Linked DNA regions of Homo sapiens: region 2 is linked to region 1. Evidence: fine-mapped expression QTL. A gene starts in region 1. The other region holds a variant in brackets. All regions are shown on one strand. Distances are between the middles of the regions. Region 1 holds the start of MGME1 (mitochondrial genome maintenance exonuclease 1). Region 2 overlaps MGME1 (mitochondrial genome maintenance exonuclease 1).

The links. PIP is the estimated chance that this variant, and not a neighbour inherited with it, causes the effect.
Region 2: its variant is fine-mapped to the expression of MGME1 in blood mononuclear cells (TOPMed, PIP 0.94).

The regions. Positions count from the first base shown.
Region 1 is chr20:17,965,028-17,977,088 of GRCh38, reverse strand. It overlaps MGME1 (mitochondrial genome maintenance exonuclease 1), which reads right to left and starts at 8,071. Exons shown (of 5, transcript NM_052865.4): 1 at 7,948-8,071; 2 at 6,719-7,288; 3 at 1,186-1,405. The coding sequence starts at 7,229. It overlaps SNX5 (sorting nexin 5), which reads left to right and starts at 8,295. Exons shown (of 13, transcript NM_014426.4): 1 at 8,295-8,714. The coding sequence starts at 8,664. RefSeq lists enhancers at 7,077-7,206, 7,227-7,426, 6,366-7,565, 8,147-8,456, 8,073-8,827 and 4 more and a silencer at 8,457-8,666.
Region 2 is chr20:17,989,910-18,001,970 of GRCh38, reverse strand. MGME1 (mitochondrial genome maintenance exonuclease 1) reads right to left here. Exons shown (of 5, transcript NM_052865.4): 5 at 10,849-12,032. The coding sequence ends at 11,862. Among named protein-coding and RNA genes, the nearest start is that of MGME1, 27 kb to the right of the region's middle. RefSeq lists enhancers at 1,545-2,046, 5,771-5,840. The variant C/A (reference allele first, on the strand shown) is at 5,430.

The DNA.
Region 1 (12,061 bases):
CTAAATTCTTTCTTGCCCGAGATCGAAGAACCCTCTCGGGGTCTGGATCAGGACCCCTTTCCTGTAACACTTGGACTCTGAAGTACCTGAGTAAAACAGTAAGACAGCTACGATATAAAAACCATGGGGACCGGGCGTGGTGGCTCATGCCTACAATCCTAGCACTTTGGGAGGCTGAGGCAGGCGGATCACCTGAGGTCCGAAGTTCGAGACCAGCCTGACCAACATGGAGAAACCCCATCTCTACTAAAAATACAAAATCAGCCACACATGGTGGCGCATGCCTGTAATCCCAGCTACTTGGGAGGCTGAGGCAAGATAATAGCTTGAACCTAGGAGATGGAGGTTGCAGTGAGCTGAAATCGCACCACTGCACTCCAGCCTGGGCAACAAGAGCAAAACTCCGTCTCAAAAAACAAAACGAAACAAAACAAAACAAAACAACCATGGGAAGCTTTAGTAAGTTCAGATCTCTGATCCATGTCAAGCACTGCCTGGAAGCCAGGAAGAGTTGATTTTCAGAACCAACAGATCATGGTGCTATCTTTAGAAAAACAGGAAAGAAAACGCAGGAATGAAATTGGATCTTATGGCAGGTACCTTGCTTTGGGGGAGGGGAAGGACAGGCTGGCAAACAGGCCATGTTAGGGAGATTGAAAAATCTCGGCCAGGTGCAGTGGCTCACGCCTGTAATCCCAGCACTTTGGGAAACCAAGGTGGATGGATCACTTGAGGTCGGGAGTTTGAGACCAGCCTGGCCAACATGGTGAAACCCTGTCTCTACTAAAAATACAAAAATTAGCCAGGTGCGGTGGTGCATGCCTGTAGTCCCAGCTACTCAGGAGGCTGAGGCAGGAGAACCGCTTGAACCTGGGAGACGGAGGTTGCAGTGAGCCAAGATTGCACCACTGCACTCCAGCTTGGGTGACACTCCGTCTCAAAACAAAACAAACAAACAAAGAATATACCTTTCTCCAGCAAACAATTTGATTTTGGAGTACTGGATGACAAAGGTTACGTGGCTCTTCTCCTTGTACCTGTTCTCAACCCCGCCCCACCCAATTCTTTTACCTAGCACAAAGGTCTGGACATTAAACAGACAGAGGCTACAGTACCTACAGGCACACCTTTGACAGGCACCATCTGTCCTACGCTGTATTAATTCACCTCCAATCTCATACTTACTGATACTCAGCCACACAGTCCAGCAGACCTATATAGTTTAAGGTTTCATGTTGAACAGCACTTTCAAGAGCTCGCACTCCACTGACATCTTTCAGAATATGCTGGACACTTTCAATGTAACCAGACTTGAGGAGATTTTCATCTCTCTCTTTTAAGGTTTCCTGGGGTGAAAGTATGCTTTCCAAGGCTTCGTGGAACCGTTTCCCTTGTAAAAAGACGTCTGAAAAGAAAATCAGGGAAAAGGGGAGGGGGGAAACACAAACAAAGCTAACACTGAAAAACAAATACTCTAAAACGCCCTGAAACAATACAATTAAAAATGACATTTTTTTTTCTTTTTTTTTTTTTTGGATGGAGTCTCCCTCTGTCGCCCAGGCTGGAGTGTAGTGGGCGATATTGGCTCACTGCAACCTCTGCCTCCTGGGGTCAAGTGATTCTCCTGCCTCAGCCTCCTGAGTAGCTGGGATTACAGGCGCCCGCCACCGTGCCTGGCTAATTTTTCTACTTTTAGTAGAGATGGGGTTTCACCATATTGGTGAGGCTGGTCTCGAACTCCTGACCTCGTGATCTGCCAGCCTTGGCCTCCCAAAGTGCTGAGACTACAGGCATGAGCCACCGTGCCCGGCCAAAAATTACATTAGTTATTTTTAAGTGACAACCCCTAAGACCAAATTTCAGCCTCTTGTGAAACCTAAGAATATACTTTGAAACCAACGGGATTATTAATAGGACGTTAGGTAATAAAATGAATTAAAATTAAGTACTTCTAGGAGAATTGGGCCAAAGTCAAAACTGAAGATCTGGCGGCTACAAGACCACATCCAGTTTATGGTACTATGTGTTTAAGTATCCAATGTAATAAGTTAACTGGCTGTGATAAAATAAAAAAAAATTAGAAATCTAGGGAACTGTGCTTCTGTTTGTAGTTCTTTTTAGACCAAAACTTAATTATGAACATAGGTGGGGGAATCCTTTTACTAACAGGATTAGTGACAAACAAGGAATGGAAAATAAGGCATGCGCAAATGAAAAGTTATGAATTTGATATTATGGAATCTGGAGGGGGAGGAAGAGGAAAATATGTGACATTCTTCTCCTGTATTTTTTTTTTAGTGCTGGAACAGCCTGAAAAATTCAGCTGTGTCTCAATTTTTTTCCCTCATACATTTTTCTATTCTAATATTTAATATTTAACATGTAATATTTTTCTAATTAGCTTTAGATTATTAGAATTCTGATTTATGGCTTGTAGGAGGACACATCTTCTTTCTTCCTAACATTTTATAACATGTGAATACTAGAGAAATTTCATTAGGACACATTAGGACACATTATTTTTCCTGTATGTTCATTTTCTGAGGTCAAAGCCTTACTTTTCGTCCCCAGGTTTCTCCGAAAGAACTGTAGTGTCTGGATTTGTTGGCGTATCCCAGGATCTAACTTGATTTTTGAACTCTCTCCTCATTTTCAGTGCTCGTTGGCCTCCAAGCGCTTGCATAGTAAGCCCCCTCCTCATACACATTTTAAAAAAGGGAACATGGCCGGGCATGGTGGCTTATGCCTATAATCCCAGCACTTTGGGCAGCCAAGGCAGGCGGATTACCTGAGGTCAGGAGTTCAAGACCAGCCTGGCCAACATGGTAAAACCCAGTCTCTACTCAAAATACAAAAATTAGCCAGGTGTGGTGGCGCATGCCTGTAATTCCAGCTACTCTGGAGGCTGAGGCAGGAGAATTGCTTGAACCCAGGAGGCAGAGGTTGCAGTGAGCCAAGATCATGCCACTGCACTCCAGCCTGGGTGACAGAGCAAGACAATCTCAAAAAAAAAAAAAAAAAAAAAAACACACAAAGAGACTCAACAAACACAAGAAATATATTCACTTGTTTCTTAGTAAGAGGAGAGAAAGAGGGGGGACTGTTATGCTAAGCAATGGCCTTGGAGCTTTCAAAACATTATTTAATTTTCAAACCCAACAACCCAGCAAAATAGGGATTGTAAGTTACCCCCATTTTAATGAATGAGGCCCTATCCCACCAGGCAGTGCTGTTAATTTGCCCCAAAGCAAAAAGCTGGACAGGCAGCCTGGCACCAGAATCTGTTTCCAATCTACCACACAGTAGAGCAAAGGAAGCAATCTTGGAAATCACCAATTAGATACTCAGAGAAACAGAGCAGGAAATACACGTGCTTGGAACATGCTTGCAGAGAGACCCACAGAAAAGGCGGAAAACAACTTTACATTTGTCAAGTTTTTTTTTTTTTGAGACAGGGTCTTACTTGTCACCCAGGATGGAGTGTACTGGCTCGATCATTGCTCACTGTAACCTTGAACACCTGGCCTTAAGCAATCCTCCTGTCTCAGCTTCCTCTACAGGCATGTGCCACCACGCCTGGCTAATTCAAAAAAATTTTTTTTTTGTAGAGATGCAATCTCTCTACGTTGCCTAGGCTGGTCTTAAACACCTGGCCTCAAGCAATCGTCCCACCTTGGTCTCCCAGAGTGCTGGGATTACAGGCATGAGCCACTGCACTCGGCCTTCAACTATTTTTTACAAAGATGGAAATGTCAATTCTTTTTTTTTCCAGGCTGGAGTGCAGTGGTATGATCTCGGCTCACTGCAATCTCCACCTCCCAGGTTCAAGCGATTCTCCTGCCTCAGCCTCCGTAGTAGCTGGGATTACAAGTGATCGCTGCGCCCGGCTAATTTTTTTGTATTTTTAGTAGAGATGGGGTTTCGCCATTTTGGCCAGGCTGGTTTTGAACTCCTGACCTCAAGTGATCCGCCTGCTTCGGCCTCCCAAAGTGCTAGGATTACAGGCATGAGCCACTATGCCCAGCTGGAAATGTCAATTCTATCATTAGCAAAAAATGGAATCCCTTCTGAAAAATTATTTGGAGAGTTAAATGAAATTCAACTTAGGAACTAAGTTATTCTACTCCAAATTTACTTGACTCAATTGGAATTATTAACACGTGAAAGACCTACAAGAAATTTATGACTGATGGAATTAAAGCCTAGGAAAAAGAAGTGTATAGCATTCATCTACACACTAGGTTAATGAAGCAGAAGACAAACATGTTAAAAACAGGAAGAAAAAAACTTAGCAAATGCCATGCCAATAGACCATACATTTCTCGCTGCAAACTTACCCCTGGCTAGGTTCTTCATATACACATGATCACAAACATGAAAACCTAGATTACAGGATCCTTTAGACACTAAGGCTCAGAACATTCAACATGATTCAATTTATAAAAATAAAAAATGATCCAAGAATATTCACTGCATGTAGCATCAAGTCTGCTTATTCACTCAAAGTAATGAAAGTGAAATGTTTTCAAGTCCTCGTATATGAAGTGCACTAAAAAAAACCTTCATGCATCTCCAGTATTCTCATGATGGAACTGGCAGGATGGCTAATACTTCAGGATTAAATCAGCGTAGCAAAAAAAAAAAAAAAAAAATTAAAACCTAAACCCCATCCCTTTGTGTGTATTTATACACAAAATATAAATCAGAATAAGTCAGACTTTCTCATTCCCACCAGTCTTCAAAAGATGAACTGATGCTTGGGAAACTGCTCAAGTATTTGGAAGAATGCCAGACACATTTCTATGCTCTCACCTTTGAGAAGACTGGGTAGAAATTACTGATCCAATATTTTTCATTAAAAAAATCTTCTTAATTTTTAAAATGTAATTCTTCTTGGGTGCCACCTTCTTGGGTTTGGGATCCAGTATCCTCCAGACCCGTTAATCAATTTAGTGAGCCCTTTTTCTTTTATTCACCATGACACTAATTGTCCCTTTATTTATTTCAGAACCCACTGCTTACTAATACTTATTTTCTAAAAAGAGTGATTCTGCCTGGGCACAGTGGGTCACACCTGTAGTCTCAGTATTCTGGGAGGCCGAGGTGGGAGCACCACTTGAAGACAGGAGTTGGAGACTAGCCTGGGCAACATAGGGAGACCCTTGTCGCTACAAAAAATAAAAAAATTAGCCAGGCATGGTGGTGCACGCCTGTGGTCCCAGCTACTCAGCAGGCTGAGATGGGAGAATCACTTGGGTCCCGGCGGTCAAGTCTGGGCGGGGTGCTGGGGTAAGCGATTCTGCTCATTTCTTAAGGTTGCTACTGAGTTAACTGAGAAACACAGCTGAGTGCTAATCTAGATCAACAAAGCTGACTCTATGAAAAAAAAAACAACCAGTCTTCTCTCTGCCTGGGCTATTGGGGCTCATTCACATTCCAAACAGAAATTCCTCTCTGGTGCACTTCCTTACTTTGTGCCAAGAGCTACAGGCCCTGGGGTCCCATGTGTTCCAGCAGGTTTCTGCCTTTTAATAATACATTTCTTATTAGTAATTTCAGCTGTACATTCCTGGTTTAAGGAAAATAACTTCTCATGAGAAAACTATCAATTCTAAATTTTAGTGGTACAAATACAAAACTGTAAGATGCCATTAGAAGATTTTTATGTTGCTTGCTTGGAAAGCAGACAATAGTTTGGTGGTTGCTACTAATTAACTATCTTAGGAAGGCAGTTAGCTCTTGCATATATAATCCTTGCCCCACACAGCTGAGGAATATTATAAGGAGCAAAGGCCTTGACCATTTGGTACATATCCAATACCACCTATATATACTTAGTATTTTTCTTTAGAACATGTGACATGTTTAATGTGTTACACGCATAGTTTTAGGAGTCTGGATTAGGGAAAAGACGACTTAAATAGAAGCCCAGGCTATGGCAAGGGTCAGTACACTATTCTTAAAACAAAAATGAAAGAGTTTGTGTACTACTAAGAGTACATGTACTGCACTTTGGGAAGCTTGGGTAAAGGAATGATTGATGTGAAACTTTCCTTTAACAAAAGACCCCTATATAATTTATGGGACTAGCTAATTCACCAGTGCCAATGGTCTTTGTTTTTGAATGGAATATTAAATTTAAGGAAGCTATTCTCCTCACTTGTCCAAGTTAGTAAATTAGAAGTTGAAGGTTAAAGTGTATTTATCCTCAGATCCTTATGAAGAACCTCTGATTATGTTTACCAAGGTCTAAATATAGGTCATGTGTTCTGGTCTGCTTCAAGGTCTTTAAATTTACGAGTCAGTTTACGCTAATAAGTAGGACAGTGGGTATTTACTGGATTCTAAACAGAATTATCTAGCAAACAACTAGAATTCTGTTACCAGGTGACTTTTTTCAATAATCAAGGAAAACAAGCAATTCTAATATTGTTGGTAGCTTATAAAACAAGTGAATTTTATGTATTATTTAGTCAAATATTTGATCTATTTTAGTTTCATCTGTAAAATGTGGATAACAGTATCTATACTCCACAGGACTACCATGAGGATCAAGTGAGTTAATACACATAAAGTGCTATTTAATGTTAATTACTATCTGAAGGGAGTTCCTTGCTAGTAAGTTAAAAAAACAAAACCAAACCTCATTCTTTTGACACCGTTGCTCTCTATTATAGAAAACATAGCAAACATATAGAATCAGAATTGAGATAATTACTTGAAGTGTATTCTTTAAAGCCATCTTCTCCCAGTTCCAGAATCATCCGCTGTTTCCACCTCTCCAACAAGAAAACCTGTTGTTTTGTCATGGTCTGCTGAAGGACTCGGGTCACACTTGGTATCACATTCCTTTGCAAGGGGATTTTCAAAGGAACTGAAGGATCACTTGCATTTGGTTTATCACTTCTCTCTGGATTGAAGATAGGAAACCAGTTTTGTGGCACTCGTCTGTCCTCACCTTGGTTTGGCAGCTTATGCTTGCTCACGGGTCCACAGAGCAAAGCATCTTCCTCCACCGATCCCGGGGTCTGGGCGACGCCTCTGGATGACAAGACAGACTGAACTAAATTAGAGTATTTTTCTTGGTCCACTTCTTCATATGGGTTCACTTTTTTCTTCCGGCCACATGAGTAAGAGGAAGTAGAGAAAGCCACAAGGGCAGCTGATTCCACAGAAAACTTTGAACTCCTGAGCTGCCTGCAAATGGTCTGAAATAACTTCATCTTCATTCAGATTTGTTTTCACTTTAGTCTATTTGCAACGGTCGAAGGCCTTTATGTTTGTATTCCTATTGGAGAGAAAACAACCATCAAAGCGAAAGCTGCATCAGAATGATATTGCACATCAAAATTGTGAACTTTTTCGACATGTTTGGACAGAGCCCTTTCTTAAGAAAGTCGACAGAGCGAGACCCTGCCTCCAAAAAAAATTTATAAATAAATCAAGACTCAATACCCGAAGGACCGACACATACTAAATGCGAATTAGTAGACAGCTTGAGGCAAGACGTCCCAGTTTCTAATCTGCAGGAATGTGACGCCCAGGAAGGGAGGCGTGTGCGAGACACGGAAAAACACAAAGATGGAGCCCGTCCCATGGCGGCCACACAGTCCTAGGTGACAGACGACGACTAATTCCTAGACACCAGGCTCTCTGCTAAGTATTCTGTGTGGATACTTCTCATTTGGTCCTCACACCCTCTACCGTGGGTCTAGAATGAACCCGTTGCACAGACGTGGAAATCGGGTTGGAGGGTCCCGTCGCTCGCCGGTCAGAGCTGGTGGCGGCGCTGAGGTCCCATTACTGTGACCGCAAAAAGTCGCCTCCCGCTCCGCCGTGGGTGCGGACCCCTGGCGGGGCCAGGACGGCGGTGGCCCCTGTGGCAGGAGTCTGGATTAGAGAAAAGACGACTTAAATAAAAGCCCAGCCTACGGCAAGTGTCGGTACCTTGGAAGCCACCACACTTCGCTTAACTCTCAAGGCGCGAACAACCTCTCGCGACCCGTACTTTCATCCGTCCCGCGCTTTGGTTTCGAATTAGGCACAGCCTAAGGCAAAGCAGGTCCAGAATGCCCCGCGGCGCTCACGCCCCACCCGAGGCTTTCGTCGGCCTCCGCCAACGCGCCACCAGTTAGAGGCAGGGAGTACCTCTCCGAGCGGAAGGGCCGGCGTCTCCGAAGCGCGGGAGCCTCCAAATCGCGCCCTTCTGCTCTCACGAGATCTGGTGACGTCAGCGCTCGCTGCCATCTTGGACTCGGGCTGAGTAATAAATTCCCCCCGCACCGAAACGCGGTCTTTCTCTAGACGCGTCTTGCTGGGAGAGTGTCCGTTGCTTCCCGTCCGTGTCGCGGCCCTGCGGTTGGCGGCCTCCTCGTGGAGCGGAGCAAGGGTAGGCCCCACGTGGCGTCTTTGCCCGGCTCCAAGATGGACGGCAGCGGGGACTGGGAGGCTGCTCTGGGGGAGCACGTGGCGCCCTGCTCGCCTGCTCCCGGGGCAGCTGGGATGGTGGCGGAGTCCGGAGGCCTCCTGCCGCCGTCGGGCAGGGAGGCCGGCGGAGGCGGGGCCGTGGCCGCCCCCGAGAGGCGCCCAGGCGGCGGCGGCGGCGGCCCAGCTTCTTCTTTCCTCGCACAGCCAGGCGGCCCCTGCTCGAGTCCCGCGTCGCCATGGCCGCGGTTCCCGAGTTGCTGCAGCAGCAGGAGGAGGACCGCAGCAAGGTGAGGTCCTCCCAGCCTCAGACTCCTGGGCGGGCGGCCCTGCGAGCTCCGGGGTCGCTGCATTCTTTCCCTTGCGCGTCCATAGGCCGTGGCTGCTCGCCGCCATCCCCAGCGCGGGAAGCACCCGTGAGACCCGGGCGGCCCCTCTCCCTGGTCTTCACTGAAGGCTGCCCCGGGGAATCCCTGTGGATGTCCCGGATTCTATTAGGACAGAACCAGAGACGCGGGACCTTAGCCCCAGCTCAGGCGCCGGTGCCGAGCGGACTTGGAGAGATGATCTCTGGAGACCCCGGAATGTTCTTTTTAAAACTTTCCTCGGCTTCGTGGTGACCAGTAGGTGAACGTGAAATTGACTTAACATGCGACAGACCAGTTTGGTTTGTTGCCCCCAAAATACCCTCCTTCCCCCCACCTTTTACTGAGAAGACTTTTTTGGGGGGGGGGCCCAAACAACTTGGGAAATTGCATCAAGCGTCCGAACATGCTGCTTACAACTTTAGAAACGCAAAATGCGTTGTTGTGGGAGTTGTGTAATTTTTAGTAGGTGCTCAAATACTTGCTGAACTTGGTGTCTATTTTTAAGTCTTGCCCATTGATGTAAACTGTCCCTAGGTCACGTGTATCTTGAGGTCTAAAAGATTATTTATGCAATAAATTGAAATTCCCATAGCCAATTAAAGATTCAGACGAGCCTCCACTCTTTTTCATTGGTTCTTTAAATTTGCCTCGGTAGCTTTGCGATGCATGGTTTGCGAGCAACCTTTCTTGCAGAATCGTCAACGTAAGTTTTTCTGACCGATGAAAAAGAACCTCTAAAAATACAAGGCTCTCTTAAAATGTAATTTGGAGCCGTCTTAACTTACACATTTCTTGAGAAGTTAAAGGCACCTCCATAGAGAAACTTGTTCATCTAGTAAGTAAATACCAGAGTTTCAAAGCGGCTGGATTGTTCCAACAAGGGTATCATTGCATTAATTATTAAAATAGAGCTTTCTATACAGGAGGGTGTTGTTTAGAGTGGTTTTTTTTTTGAAAGTTCTTTATTACTAAAACAAAGTGGAAACTTGAGACCACGATTCTTTGTAAAACATTATAAAGGTACTTTTCTCCATAAAGGGTAGATAATGGATTGGGATTTTGGTAGCATTTTATTTTTTCTTTCTTTCTGGTACATTCTTTTAGCTGTCTTGATTCGGAGTCAGCTAGGTAAAAGGACTCAATTGCTTCACCCCACTCTCTGGTAGTACAGTATATTGCAGCTGGTTTTTAAAATGACTTCCACCACCCTGATCCTCCAGCAAAATTGGAGAATGGTTATGAAGGCCATTTCCTGCCTGTTTTAGAGGCTACAGAAACTGTCCGTATCTGTAGCGAAGAGAGTTACATGACATTGTTTTCCTTTTTACATTACAGGAATAAAGAGACAATAAAAATAAATAATTACCCTGACGCGTGGCTTTATTTTTGTTTTCTGATCTCTGCTGATGCTGATAACCTGCTGTGGTCTGGCCTAGATGGTGTTATGGTTAACTGAAAGGGAGTTTGGGGCAAGTATGAAATAATGGGAAACTAAGTCTTGGGCAACTTTTTGCCATAATACAATTTCGGTAGTCAACTGAAATGTTTTGTGTGTTACCTGAAATGTGTGTTACTTAAATTGTTTAAATGCCCTCCTGATAATTTACTTTGGTTTGGAATTCTCCCTAAGGATGGAGTTAATTAAGACTCACTAAGGTAGGGGGACATACTTGATTCTTCAGGATTTTGAATTCTAGCCCAATACTCATTTTGGCCAATTCAGCAAAACTGAAAGGGAATACTGTGTCAGTCGTGTCTGGTAGCCAGACACTGGCATTTTGTTACATTCTTTAGCCGAGGGTGTTGGGGTTTGCCTTCTTCCTCAGAAAATAGTTCAGGGGAAGAGATGCATGGTTAATTTGGTTCCTAACTGGTCCTCTATTTACTGGTTTTTGATTTTTTTTTTTTTTTTGAGACGGAGTCTCGCTCTGTCGTCCAGGCTGGAGCGCAATGGCTCGATCTCAGCTCACTGCAACTTCCGCTTTCTGGGTTCAAGCGATTCTCCTGCCTCAGCCTCTCAAGTAGCTGGGATTACAGTCGCTCACCGCCATGCCCGGCTAATTTTTGTATTTTTGTGGAGACCGGGTTTCACCATGTTGGCCAGGCTGGTATTTGAACTCGACCTTCGCAGCCTAGTGCTATTTTTAACTAGGGGGTTCTCCTTCCTTGACAGTAACAACTTGGCCTTAACTTACTGCTTGGTTACAGGGACTTTGGTGAATGATATCTGTCCTCTTACCTACTCAGGAGTGTTTGTAGACTAAGTACTGCTGCTCTGGTTTCGTGTTTAACTGGTGTGGAAGCTGCCTCTAGGGGTATTTTTGTTCTCCATTAGCTAGAATGGAGTGCAGTTGGTTAGTATAGGAACAATCCTGAACTTTGACCAATACCATAGCAAGTCCAAACTTACAAACTTTGTGGACTGAAGCTTTATGCTACCCTTGCAACTATTTTCTAAGTTGAGGAAGTATGACGTATCAAGCTTCCCACGCCTTAGTTCTAGTTCAGTAACTTGTACTCGGTGTCTTAAGATCCCCATTTGTGAATACTCTAAAAGGTCATTATCTGTTCACATTATTTTGGCCATAGGTAGAAATGGCCAAGAGGCTTTTTTTTTTTTTTTTTTGAGACAGGGTCTGGCTCTGTCACCCAGGCGGGAGTGCAGTGTCACGATCACAACTCACTGCAGCCTCGACCTGGGGAGCTCAGGTGATCACCCCCACCTCAGCCTCCTGAGTAGCTGGGGCTACAGGCACACACCAGCATGCCCACCTAATTTTTGTATTTTTTGGTAGAGATGGGGTTTCACCATCCAGTTCAACATGCCGGGATTACAGGCATGAGCCATTGTGCTTGGCCAAGGCTGTTAAGTTTTCTAGATTTGTTTCTGAGCTGTAAACTCCTCATTCGGTGAGACCTAGTGGTCATCTAAACTAGAGGTTGAGTTTAAAATTCAGTTTCTCAACCTGGGGAGCACTGTTGACATTTTAGCCTGATCACTTTTGTTGAGGAGTGCCCTCTGGGTTGTAGGATGTGAAGCAACTGTTTTTGGCCTCTGCTAGGACGCGGCCTCCTCCCCTCCCATGGTGATAAGAAGTCAAAATTGCCTGTTTGAGAATCACTGGTTTAAACGGACTTCCTTCTAAAATGGTGTGATATGGGTGGGGTCAGGTTGTGTTACAGAAGCTAGTCTTTGTGTGCTTGTTGCGAATTTTTCAGGTTTTCTATTAATCTTGCCTAAGGAAATAACATGCCATGTAAAAATTAGC
Region 2 (12,061 bases), 25 kb before region 1:
TTCTAGTCTTTATGAATACCCTATGAAGTAGTTATTATTTTACCCATTTACAGACGAGGACACTGAGGCTCAAAAGCTTTAGATAACTTGCCTGGGTCATGCTGTTAGCATGGTGGGTTGTAAAAATGGGCCCATTGTTCCCTTTCCTGTTCCACAGCCCTTTGCCATGTGAGTTTTTGGCTCCTCTCTGCAAGAGGTGGAATTTATTTCTCTATCCTTTGGTCTTGCCTTGGCCACATGACCTGCTTTGGCAAACGAGACATTAGTCAGCACGGCCCAAGCCGAGGCTTGTGAAATGCTGTGTGCTGGGGCTTGTTCTGCTGCTGTCCGGAATCCTTCTGCTACTGCTGCGTGAATGAGAGCCCAGGTTAGCCCTCTGGAGGATGAGAGTCACCAGGCCCAGGCATCTCCATGGCCCCAGCTGACACCAGGCCAACCCTCAGACATCTAAGTGATGACATCCTAAATCATCTAGCCCTACTTGAGCCAGCACAGACCAGAAATGCTCAGCTTGACCTCAGAATCATGAGAAATAAGTCGTAAACCACTGAATTTGGGGGTGATTTTTATTTACTTGTTTTTGAGACAAGGTCTCACTCTGTCACCCAGACTGGAGTGCTGTGGCACAAACATGACTCACTGCAACCTCTATCTCCCAGGCTCAAGCGATCCTCCCAACTCAGCCTCCCAAGTAGCTGGGACCACAGGCATGTGCCACCACAACCAGCTAGTTTGTTTTATTTTGTTTTTTTCCGTTTTTTCTAGAAGCGAGTCTCACCATGTTGCCCAGGCTGGGTGATTTATTGCACAGCAAAGCTAACTGATAGTGTTAGTGAGGAGAAAAGATGGGGCTGGACCTGGATTTTCTCCCTCCAGCCTTTCCCATGTCAGCAAATAACACACATGCCCTAAACCTACAACTTACCTTCCATTTATACTTCTTCATCACTCATCTCATTCAAACCCTCAGGCAAGGCTCCCAAAATACATCTCGAATCTTCCTTCCCAGCACCTCCTCTGCCATTTCTCTAGGCCAGCCTACCTCTTCTATCATCTAGACTGAGAGTCGGCAGACTTACTCTATAGAAGTCCAGATAGTAAATACTTGAGGCTTTGCAGGCCATACAGCCTCTGTTACCGACTTAACCTGCAGCTACAGAAGGAAAGCAGCCAGAGTCAAAAGCAAATGGGTGATGCTGTGTTCCAGGAAACCTTGACTTACAGACACTGGAATTCGAATCTTTACAATTTTATAAAAATTATATATGCCATAAAAAGACTCTACTTTTGATTTTTTTTCCAAACATTTAAAAATGTAAAAACAACTCTATGCTCACAGACCGTATAAAGACTGTATCAGGCAGCAAGCCGGATTTGGTGGATGAGCCAGTGTGCTGACTCCTATTATAATAGCTCTGTCTATAATAGTCCAGCCAGGCTGTGCTTCAGCACTTGCCTCCTGCATTCTGCTCTCCAAACAATGCTGATCTGCTTCTGCTGCTGCTGCTGCCGCCGCCGCCTCCTCCTCCTCCTCTTCTTCTTCTTTTTCTTCTTCTTCGTCTTTTAAATAATTTTAATTAAATTAGGCCAGGTACGGTGGCTCATGCCTGTAATCCCAGCACTTTGGGAGGCCGAGGCAGGTGGATCGTTTGAGGTCAGGAGTTCGAGACCAGCCTGGTGAAACCCCATCTCTACTAAAAATACAAAAATTAGCCAGGCATGGTGGCGTTGGCATGCACCTGTAATCCCAGCTACTCGGGAGGCTGAGGCAGGAGAATCACTCGAACCTGGGAGGCAGATGTTGCGGTGAGTCGAAGTGGCGCCATTGCATTCCAGCCTAGGCGACAAGAGCAAAACTCCATCTCAAAATAAATAAAATAAAATAGATAAGATAAAATAAAAAAAAATAGAGGTGGAGGTCTCACTATGTTGCCCAGGCTGGTTTCGAACTCCTGGGCTCAAGTGATCTCCTGCCTTGGCCTCCCAAAGTGCTGGGATTACCGGTGAGAGCCACTGCACTTGGCCCCGCTCTTCTTAAAAGGCAATGGAATGGCTTTATTCCCCTGCTTATCCCTGTCTTTCCATCTTAGAGTAAAATCTAAACTCCTTACCATGGCATATTGAGTTTGACATCATCTGGCTCCCCCGCCCACTTCTGCAGCCTGCAATTCCTTTCCTTTCCCCACTGCCTTCTGGCCACCCCTGTGTTCTTATAGCTCCTGTAACATGCTGTTCTTTCCTACCCTGGGGCCTTTGAACATGCTGATCCTTCTGCTGGAATATTCTTCCTGTGGCTCTCTGCAGTGCTGGCCACGTTTCCTCCTTTCCTCCTTCAAGTATCATGTTATGTGTCGCCCCTCAGAGGAGCCCTCTCTGACCACACAATCCAAAGTTGCAATTCTCCTCCTGGCTCAGTGATCCTCTGTTTCTTCATGGCACTGTCAATCTGTAATTTTCATACTAACTTTCTCACTTATTAATTGTTTGCCCTTTCTCTAGACTGTCAGCTCCATGCATTTTGCAAAAAACTAGCACAAGGCAGACATGAATATTCAATAAGACATTTGTCGGGTAAAGGAATGAATTACCACCTATGATGGTCAATCTTAGGTGTCAGCGTAACTGGATTAATGACACCCAGACAGCTGGCGAAGCATTATTTTGAGGTGTCTGTGAGGTGTTTCTGGAAGAAACTGGCATTTGAATCAGTGGACTGAGTAAGGAAGATCCATCCTCACTCAATGTCAGGGGGCACCGTCCATCAGCTGAGGGCCAGGATAACAAAAAGGCAAAGGAAAGGAGGATTTGCTCTGTTTTCTGGAGCTGGAACACCCTTCTTCTCCTGCCCTTGGACATCAGAACTCCAGCTTCTCCAGCTTTTGGACTCTGGGACACCAGTGGCCTCCTGGATTCTCAGGCTTTCGGCCTGAGACTGAGTGCTATCAGGTTCTCTGGTTCTGAGGCTTTTGAACTTGGACGGAGCCATGCTACCAGCTTCCCTGGTTTTCCAGCCTGCAGACAGCAGACCGTAGGACTTCTCAGCCCCCATAATTGTGTGAGCCCATTCCCCTAATAAATCCCCTGTCATATACCTATATCTACAAGCCCTATTGGTTTTAGCTCTCTGATTTATACACCGTCTAACTACAATCCCATGACTTTCTTCAGCATCGCATCCTTATCTGTACTGCCTCATTAATCCTATTTTGCAAGTCTTGTTTCACTGCGAGACTCCCCTAGTTCTACACAAAGCTTTCATTTCTTTTTTTTTTCTTCATATACTCAAAACTTTCAAATCACTGAGCTCACAAGTCAACCCACAGCCTCTTATCAAAGGGGTGACCAGCACTAACCAAATTTCTCTGGTGAGCCATTCTGATACCCAGCTCTTTTTCTGCTGCTCTAGGAAATGGCAGTTTCCTCTGTTGTTTGTCTCTTTACTCATCTCTCTCTTAAAACACTATTCTGGGCCAGACATGGTGGCTCACGCCTATAATCGCAGCACTTTGGGAGGCCAAGGTGGATGGATCACCTGAGGTCAGGAGTTCGAGACCAGCCAGCCAACATGAAAAAACCCCGTCTCTACTAAAAATACAAAAAATTAGCCAGGTGCGGTGGTAATGACCTGTAATCCCAGCTACTCGGGAGGCTGAGGCAAGAGAATCGCTTGAATCCAGGAGGCAGAGGTTGTAGTGAGCCAAGATTGTGCCACTGCACTCCAGCCTTGGCGACAGAATGAGACCCTGTCTCAAAAAAATAAATAAATAAAAAGATGTTTTGGGTTCAGATTTGAGAGTTTTTTTCTTTTTGTTTTTCATTTTACTTAAGAAATAGATATAAAATAAGTAGTTTTTTTTGTCTTTTTGTTTGTTTGTTTGTTTTTGTTTTGAGACGGAGTCTCGTTCTGCCGCCCTGGCTGGAATGCAGTGGTGCAATCTCTGCTCCCTGCAACCTCCCCCTCCAGGGTTCAAGCGATTCTCCTGCCTCAGCCTCCTGAGTAGCTGGGACTACAGGATGTGCCACCACTCCCGGCTAATTTTTTGTATTTTTAGTAGAGACGGGGTTTCACTGTGTTTGTTACATGTACATCTGAAATAGTGAAGTAACAGAAAAAGGTAGAATATGAACAAGAATCAAAGTGGGTGGTAAAAACAAAGGCACCACAAGAGTTCAGTGAAGGGTAGAGTCGGTTCCACGGAGGAAGTAGTTGATCTTTGCCCAGTGCCTATTCCACGTTCAGCATTTGTCACACATTTCCTATGTTAATCTTTCCAGGAACACTGAGGTTAATACTCTTCCCCAAATTACTAGTGAGGAAAAAGGCATGGAGAGCTGAAGTGACTTAGCATTGCACAGCAGGATTTGAACCCACCTCTGCCCAATTCTGAGGCTCCTGCTTCCTGCCCTATACCATTTTGTTTCCTGTGGAGCAGGTAAGACTTGAGCAGATCATCAGTGGGATTGCGGTTCAGGCCCAAGCTCTCAGGCAAGATATGGCTGAACAAAGGGAGGAAGGGAAGTTATTTTATGCAAAGGTGTCAGCACAAACAACAGCTTAGAAATGAGTGAGACTGGTGCAGTAGGACAGTCTAGACTTGCCTAAATGAATGCTTCTAATCACAGTTGACCTTAGCTTGCTGTTCTTTAGAATTTGTTTTCTTTTTTAACTTTTTTTTTTTTTTGAGACAGGGTCTCCCTCTGTCCCCCAGGCTGGAGTGAAGTGGTGTGATCTTGGCTCACTGTAGCCTCTGCCTCCCAGGCACAAGTGGTCTTCCCACCTCAGCCTCCTGAGTAGCTGGGCCTGACTACAGGTGTGCACCACCATGCCTGGCTAATTTTTGTATTTTTTGTAGAGACAGGATTTTGCCATGTTGCCCAAGCTGGTCTTGAACTCCTGGGCTCAAGCAATCTGCCAGCCTCAGCCTCCGAAAATGTCGGGATTACATGCACAAGCCACCGCACACGGCTTCTTTTTTTAAAAAACTTTTAATATGCCATTAGTTTAGTGATACTATTACTTAAAGACACATTAGGTTACATTTCAGCAACATTGCTTTTTTACACTATTACCTTTAATGAACATTTTTGTTCATCACAAAATTGTAGCATGTTACCTAACCTGTTAGATAATATTTGTTATCTAACAGATCTTTAAAACTATATCTATGTCTCTGATGATTAATATCTAACACTTTCATACACTTTTCAATCCTTTTAGAAGTCCTCGCAGAGAATGGCTGAGGCTGATTGGGACGCATTAACTGGGGCTCTGGTGAGCCGACTGAGCTGAGTCCCCTGCAGTGCCTGTATGACCTGCACCAACGTGGGAATTGCCATCTCTCCTGCTGGAAAATCAGTGCTGCCTGTGGGAAGCCCGCCCTGGTTGGAGCTGCAGTTTCCTACCAGTTTGGTAAATAGCCTCATTTCTA[C/A]TTTATCTCACTCCACTTTTCCGAACCGGTGACCCAGATGCATTTGGTAGCAAGGGGCCTCACTGGGCTGTGTAGCCAGGCTTCTATATTATTGTAGTAGAAAAAGTGAGAAGTACAAGCTGCCTGAAAATACAGAGGTAAAGGAAGAACACTCATGTAGTTGATTTTATTCAAAACAGACCTGTGTTGGTGACTAAAATGCCCAAATTACCCGGAGATAGATGTAGGTCCGCCCATTTTTGGCTTCTGCCCCATAATTGCAGTGTACTTCTCTCACCACTAGATGACAGTCGCGTTTTAAAGCAGATTTTATTCACGCGTTAATGCTGTTCCAAAAAAAAAATGGTTTTCATACCGTCAGAAGAGGGGCTCACAACTCTTGTGTTAGAGAATATGCGAGAAATCAGGAAATTTCAGACACCACTGGTGGGACATTAAGTCGATGTCACTGTTTTGGAGAGGAATTTGGTGGTAATGTTCAAGCTTTGACCCAGCAGAGACACATCCAGGTCTGATCATTTGATAGGAGGATGGCTAACATTTTGTTCCCACCATGTGTCAGGCACTTTTCTGAATGCTTCGCTCATTCAATCCTCACAATTTCAAGAAGCAGATACTATTATTTTCCCCCAAATTACAGATGAGGAAATCAAGCACAAAAAGGTCAAGTAACAGGCCGGGTGCGGTGGCCCACGCCTGTAATCCCAGCACTTTGGGAGGCCGAGGTGGGTGGATCACGAGGTCAGGAGATCGAGACCATCCTGGCTAACAAGGTGAAACCCCGTCTCTACTAAAAATACAAAAAAAATTAGCCGGGCGTGGTGGCGGGTGCCTATAGTCCCAGCTACTCAGGAGGCTGAGGCACGAGAATGGCGTGAACGCTGGAGGCCGAGCTTGCAGTGAGCCGAGATCGTGCCACTGCACTCCAGCCTGGGCGACAGAGTGAGACTCCCTCTCAAAAAAAAAAAAAAAAAAAGGTCAAGTAACTAGTCCAAGGTCACAGAGCTAGTAAGTGGCAGAGTCACAATCCATACTGCACTTTCCACTATATTGCATGTGTATTGTGTGTACCAGAAAACACGTGCAAAGGTGTTCACTGCTGCATCGTCTGGAGTAGCAAAACACTGTTAACCGAACAGTCCATTAGCATGACAATAAAACAGGAGGGAGAACTGCAGAGGAGTTAAAAGCAGTTATGAAAGATCTAGAATTGGTGAACCTGGAGACATCTCAAAAACAAAGTTGAGATAAAGCAAGTAAATCTAAAAACACAGAAAGCAAAACTATATTATACATGGAAACCAGTACACACAGTAAAACTATACAAAAAAACCCACATCAAATTTATGACGGCATTTGTCTCAGGGGAGAGGGAAATGGGATTAAGAAAACAAGGCAACAGCTTTTATCTGTAATGCTTTTTTTTTTTTTTTTTTTTTTAGAAGACTGAGTCTTGCTCGCTCTGTTGCCCAGGCTGGAGTGGAGTGGCATGGTCTTGGCTCACTGCAACCTCTGTCTCCTGGGTTCAAGCAATTCTCGTGCCTCAGCCTCCCAAATGGCTGGAATTACAGGTGCCCACCACCACGCCCGACTAATTTTTATATTTTTAGTAGAGACGGGGTTTCACCATGTTGGCCAGGCTGGTCTCGATCTCCTGACCTCAGAAGATCCACCCGTCTCAGTCTCCCAAAGTGCTGGGATTACAGGCATGAGACACCGCGCTGGCCTGGTCTATTTTTTGTTGTTGTTGTTGTTTGTTTTAGAGACAAGGTCTCACCCAGGCTGGAGTGTAGTGGTGTGATCATAGCTCTCTGCAGCCTTGGACACCTGGACTCAAGTGATCCTCTTGTCTCAGCCTCCCAAGTAGCTAGGACTATCAGCATGACCCCCATGCCCAACGACTTTTTTTTTTTTTTCCCAAGACAAAGTCTCGCTCTGTCGCCCAGACTGGAGTGCAGTGGCGTGATCTTGGCTCACTGCAAGCTCCGCCTCCCGGGTTCATGCCATTCTCCTGCCTCAGCCTCCCGAGTAGCTGGGACTATAGGCACCCACCACCACGCCTGGCTAATTTTTTGTATTTTTAGTAGAGACAGGGTTTCACTGTGCTAGCCAGGAAGGTCTCGATCTCCTGACCTCGTGATCCGCCTGCCTCGACCTCCCAAAGTGCTGGGATTACACGACTTTTTACTTTTTAGAGATGGGAGTCTTTCTATGTTGCCTAAGCTGGTCTCCAGCTCCTGGCCTCAAGCGATCTTCTAGCCTTGGCCTCCCAAAGCATTGGGTTCAAGGTGTGAACCCCTGCACCTGGCCTGTAACAATCTACATATTTTATATCTATTTCTTAAGTAAAATGGGAAAAAACCCTCAAATCTGAACCCAAAACATTATTTATTTATTTATTTGAGACAGGGTCTCATTCTGTTGCTGAGGCTGGAGTGCAGTGGTGCAATCTTGGCTCACTACAACCACCACCTCCCAGGCTCAAGCGATCCTCCCTCAGCCTCCCAAGTAGCTAGGACCACAGGTGCATGCCACCACACCTGGCTACTTTTTTGTATTTTTGGTAGAGATGGGGTTTTGCCATGTTGCCCAGGCTGGTCTCAAACTCCTGAGCTCAAATGATCCGCCTGCCTCAGCGTCCCAAAGTGCTGAGATTACAGTCATGAGCCACTGTGCCTGGCCATCTTTTTATGATTGGATCTTCACAAATGCATTACTCAACCTGACAATTGTTATTGTCATGGCAACATACAAGCCTTTTGCTCATTCTGGGGTCTCTCCCCAGAGATTCTCTCTAGTTCCCTTCAATAGTATAAATAACTGAAGTGGATCAGTAGGTTAGACTTCCAGCAGAAGCACATATCTGCTTAACTTTTAGGCCTCTGCTGGCGGGAAGGGAGGCAGGAAGGAAAAGTCAGTTCTACTTTTTACTTAGCATTGAGTGATTTAACACATAGCTCCAAACAACTTATTGTTTCTTTAAACATGGAAGTTTCAACTATTCTCTATTTTGTTTCTTAATGTTTTTTACTCCAATGATTCCCTTCCTTCACTCTTTTGTTGAGGGGTGGGCAGGAACACAGGGTAGGTTATAATCAAATATTTAATTGCTCGGGTGGAAAGCCTCAGTGATTAAAACAAAGTACCCTTCTCCAATTCCTTTTAAAGCCAGTAGCCAAATTGGTTACCTAGGAACACACTGACTTATGACTAACCCCCTTCCTGTATTTACCAAGGTCAACACATATGAAACCGTAGGTCATACACTGACGAGTTTTCCTAGAATTATAATAGGGTTATAGAGGCTAATGTTCTCAGATTATCAGGCTCTGAGGAAGAGGCCAGGTGTAAGGAGGAAAAAGGCCATACATGTATGTGTATATATTTATACTTTTTTTTTTTTTTTTTTGGAAAAAACAAAATTGGCTTTTGTGTCAGCATGGAACTTCTGTCAGTTGCTGACTGCATTGGTAAGAATGGGTAGAACTGTGGAGGAAAAGGAAATGCAGTTAGCTTTGAAGCCAACGGATTTTCTCAAAACTAAACACTGGAAGGCAACATTCTGTACTTCTGAGAAAGCCTCCTCAGAAAAGCAATATACACACACCTCCTTTAAAAAAATGTAAATTATCCTTGAGCGTCTCTCCTTATTTTGAATGCTGTTTCATTTCACTGGAGTTTCATATGCAGTATTTCACTTCGGCAAAGAGATGGCAACCAACAATTCCTAACATACGTGTTAATTCCTTTTTTTTTTTTTTTTTTTTTGAGACGGAGACTCGCTCTGCTGCCCAGGCTGGAGTGCAGTGGCGTGGCCTTAGCTCACTGCGACCTCTGCCTCCTGGGTTCAAACAATTCTCCCGTCTTAGTTCCCCAAGCAGATGGGACTACAGGTGTGCACCACCAGGCCCAGCTAGTTTAATTTTTAGTAGAGAAGCAGGGTTTCACCATGTTGGCCAGGCTGGTCCTGAACTCCTGACCTCAAGTGATTCACCCGCCTCGGCCTCCCAAAGTGCTGAGATTACAGGCGTAAGCCACTGCCTCATACATGTTAATTCTTGAAAAACTGCAACTCATTTAGAAACTCAAATTTGACTTTCTCCTCCTATGCTTTCGTAGTAACAATAACTTTTTCCGTTGACATTAACATCTCAGGAGATGTGACCCCCGAGGAGTATCATGATTATCAGGAGAAACTGGTGAGCCCTTGAGGTCAAGAAAACCTGCCCAGGGATTTACCTTCTCTGTTCTTATACCAACCACATCCTCCTGGTCACACTCTCCTGAGGGGCTCCCTCATAGAACTTTTCAGGCCACCATTATCTTGGGAGACTCCTAGTACAAAGTCACAGGTCTGAGACAAATTTCTATTTACATAACAGAACACCTGTATTAAAATGAAATTTTGCAGCTGGACATAGTGACTCACGCCTGTAATCCCAGCACTTCGGGAGGCTGAGGCAGGCGGATCACCTGAGGTCAGGAGTTTGAGACTACCCTGGTCAACATGACGAAGCCCTGTCTCTACTAAAAATACAAAAATTAGCAGGGCATGGTGGTGCACGCCTGTAATCCCAGCTACTTGGGAAGCTGAGGCAGGAGAATTGCTTGAGCCCGGAAGGCGGAGGCTGCAGTGAGCCCACCGCACTCCAGCCTGGCTGACAGAGCCAGATGGTCTCAAAAAAAAAAAAAAAGAAAAATAAAAAGAAATTTTGTTAGGTCTAGCCTCCTAAATTCTAGGTTGAGGCTTATTAGAGCAGAGTGGCAAACTCTGCTAGCACAACTTTTAATTGCCTCACTTCATTTTTGACTGGAATTTACAGGCTACAGAAATATGTATCTGCAGCTTGAGAAAAACCCACATGAATGCAGAAGTGTATAGAGATAATACAAAGGTCCCCCTTGATCCTCCCATCTCCTACCTGAATATTGCTTTCCTTGCTAGGTGACCGTGGCTGAGGGCTTAGTGAGGAGGCTTTTTTTTTTTTTTTTTTTTAAACGGAGTCTCGCTCTGTCGCCCAGGCTGGAGTGCAGTGGCGTGATCTCGGCTCACTGCAAGCTCCGCCTTCCGGGTATACGCCATTCTCCTGCCTCAGCCTCCGGAGCACCTGGGACTACAGGCGCCCGCCACGACGCCCAGCTAATTTTTTGTATTTTTAGTAGAGACGGGGTTTCACCGTGTTACCCAGGATGGTCTCGATCTCCTGACCTTGTGATCCGCCCGCCTCGGCCTCCCAAAGTGCTGGGATTTCAGGCGTGAGCCACTGCGCCCAGCCGAGGACGCTTTCTTTTATGCACTTACACAGAACTCTCACCAAAGCTATTGGGCTTGTAAAATTCTGAATTATAAAAAAAGTGCAAACAATTTCCAGGTTTATAAAATTATCCTATAAACACACAAAGTAAACAAAACCAAAGCTTCATTACTCATATCTTGTATTTTATTTCTTATGAAAATGGCTACCCAAAGAAGTCATTGTAGCAGGCTACTATTTTAAGGCAGCAACTGTATAACTTAAATGCTAAGACTCACTCCATAAGACAGAAAACCCTTCCCCAGGGCTGTAATGGGCATTTAAGTTTCCCAAACCCAGGGACAACTAATTTTTATTACCTATTGAATAGAAACAAATGGATTTTAATAGTTCCCCTCCCCTATAGCTGAAAAACTCCACAAACAATAATTGACTCTATCTACATGATCTGTTGACTCACGCCAGAAATAGTTACTAAAACACTTAGAATTGTGATGTTCAAACTGGCCTCTGGCTACTTCTGGGGGGTTATTTGGTGTTACGCAATGACATATTGCCAGCGACATGGTGAATATACTGTCTTTATAGTCAGCAATGTTTAGTTGAGGCTAATCACGTATTTATTTTTTCAAAAGGTTAAATGTAAGCTTTTCCCAGCTGAAATATATAGAAAACCCCAATGTATGAAACAAGTTTTAGGCATTGGTGTTGGCAGCGGTAGTGGGCTGATGTGTCCTCCCTGCACACAGCTGGGGGCATGTAGCCCCTTCCCCTCTGGGTGAACCCTGGGGAAATCTTGGCACCCTCAGCCTCACTGCCTTCCAATCTCAGCTCAAAGACTGGGCATCCTGCCTGGGACCACGCCCCCCCCCCCCCAATGTCCCTCAAGGGAGTACAAGAGTCACCAGCATGACTGCCCATCCTGCGTGTCCTCCTTTCAGGTAAATAAGAGGTAGCATAGCTGGGATTTCGCGTGCCGAAGTCTAGGTCTTTATATCTAGACTTTGGGGCTTTTCAGTCTTTTTGGTAACAACACATTTCAACAAATTAATACTTCTACTTGTGTTCGTGTAGCACTCAGATCCAGTGGCACCTCATTTTTACACTGGAGTAAACAGCAATATATGTTCCCAAACTGTGAGAAGGTGCTGAATGTTCCCAAATAGCAACTTGCTCCCTATTCTGAATATTCTGGTTTCTGAATATTCTGGTTCTTTTTCTTTTCCGTATATTCTTCTAGTCGAAGAAGCCACTTGGTCCAGTACTGGGAACAGAGCTCTGCATCCATGAAATGTGGGTGGGCAGGTGATCCATCTTTGTAGGCCACCACAATTAAGCCACATTGAACCTAGGAAGAAACACAGGGCAATTCTCGTT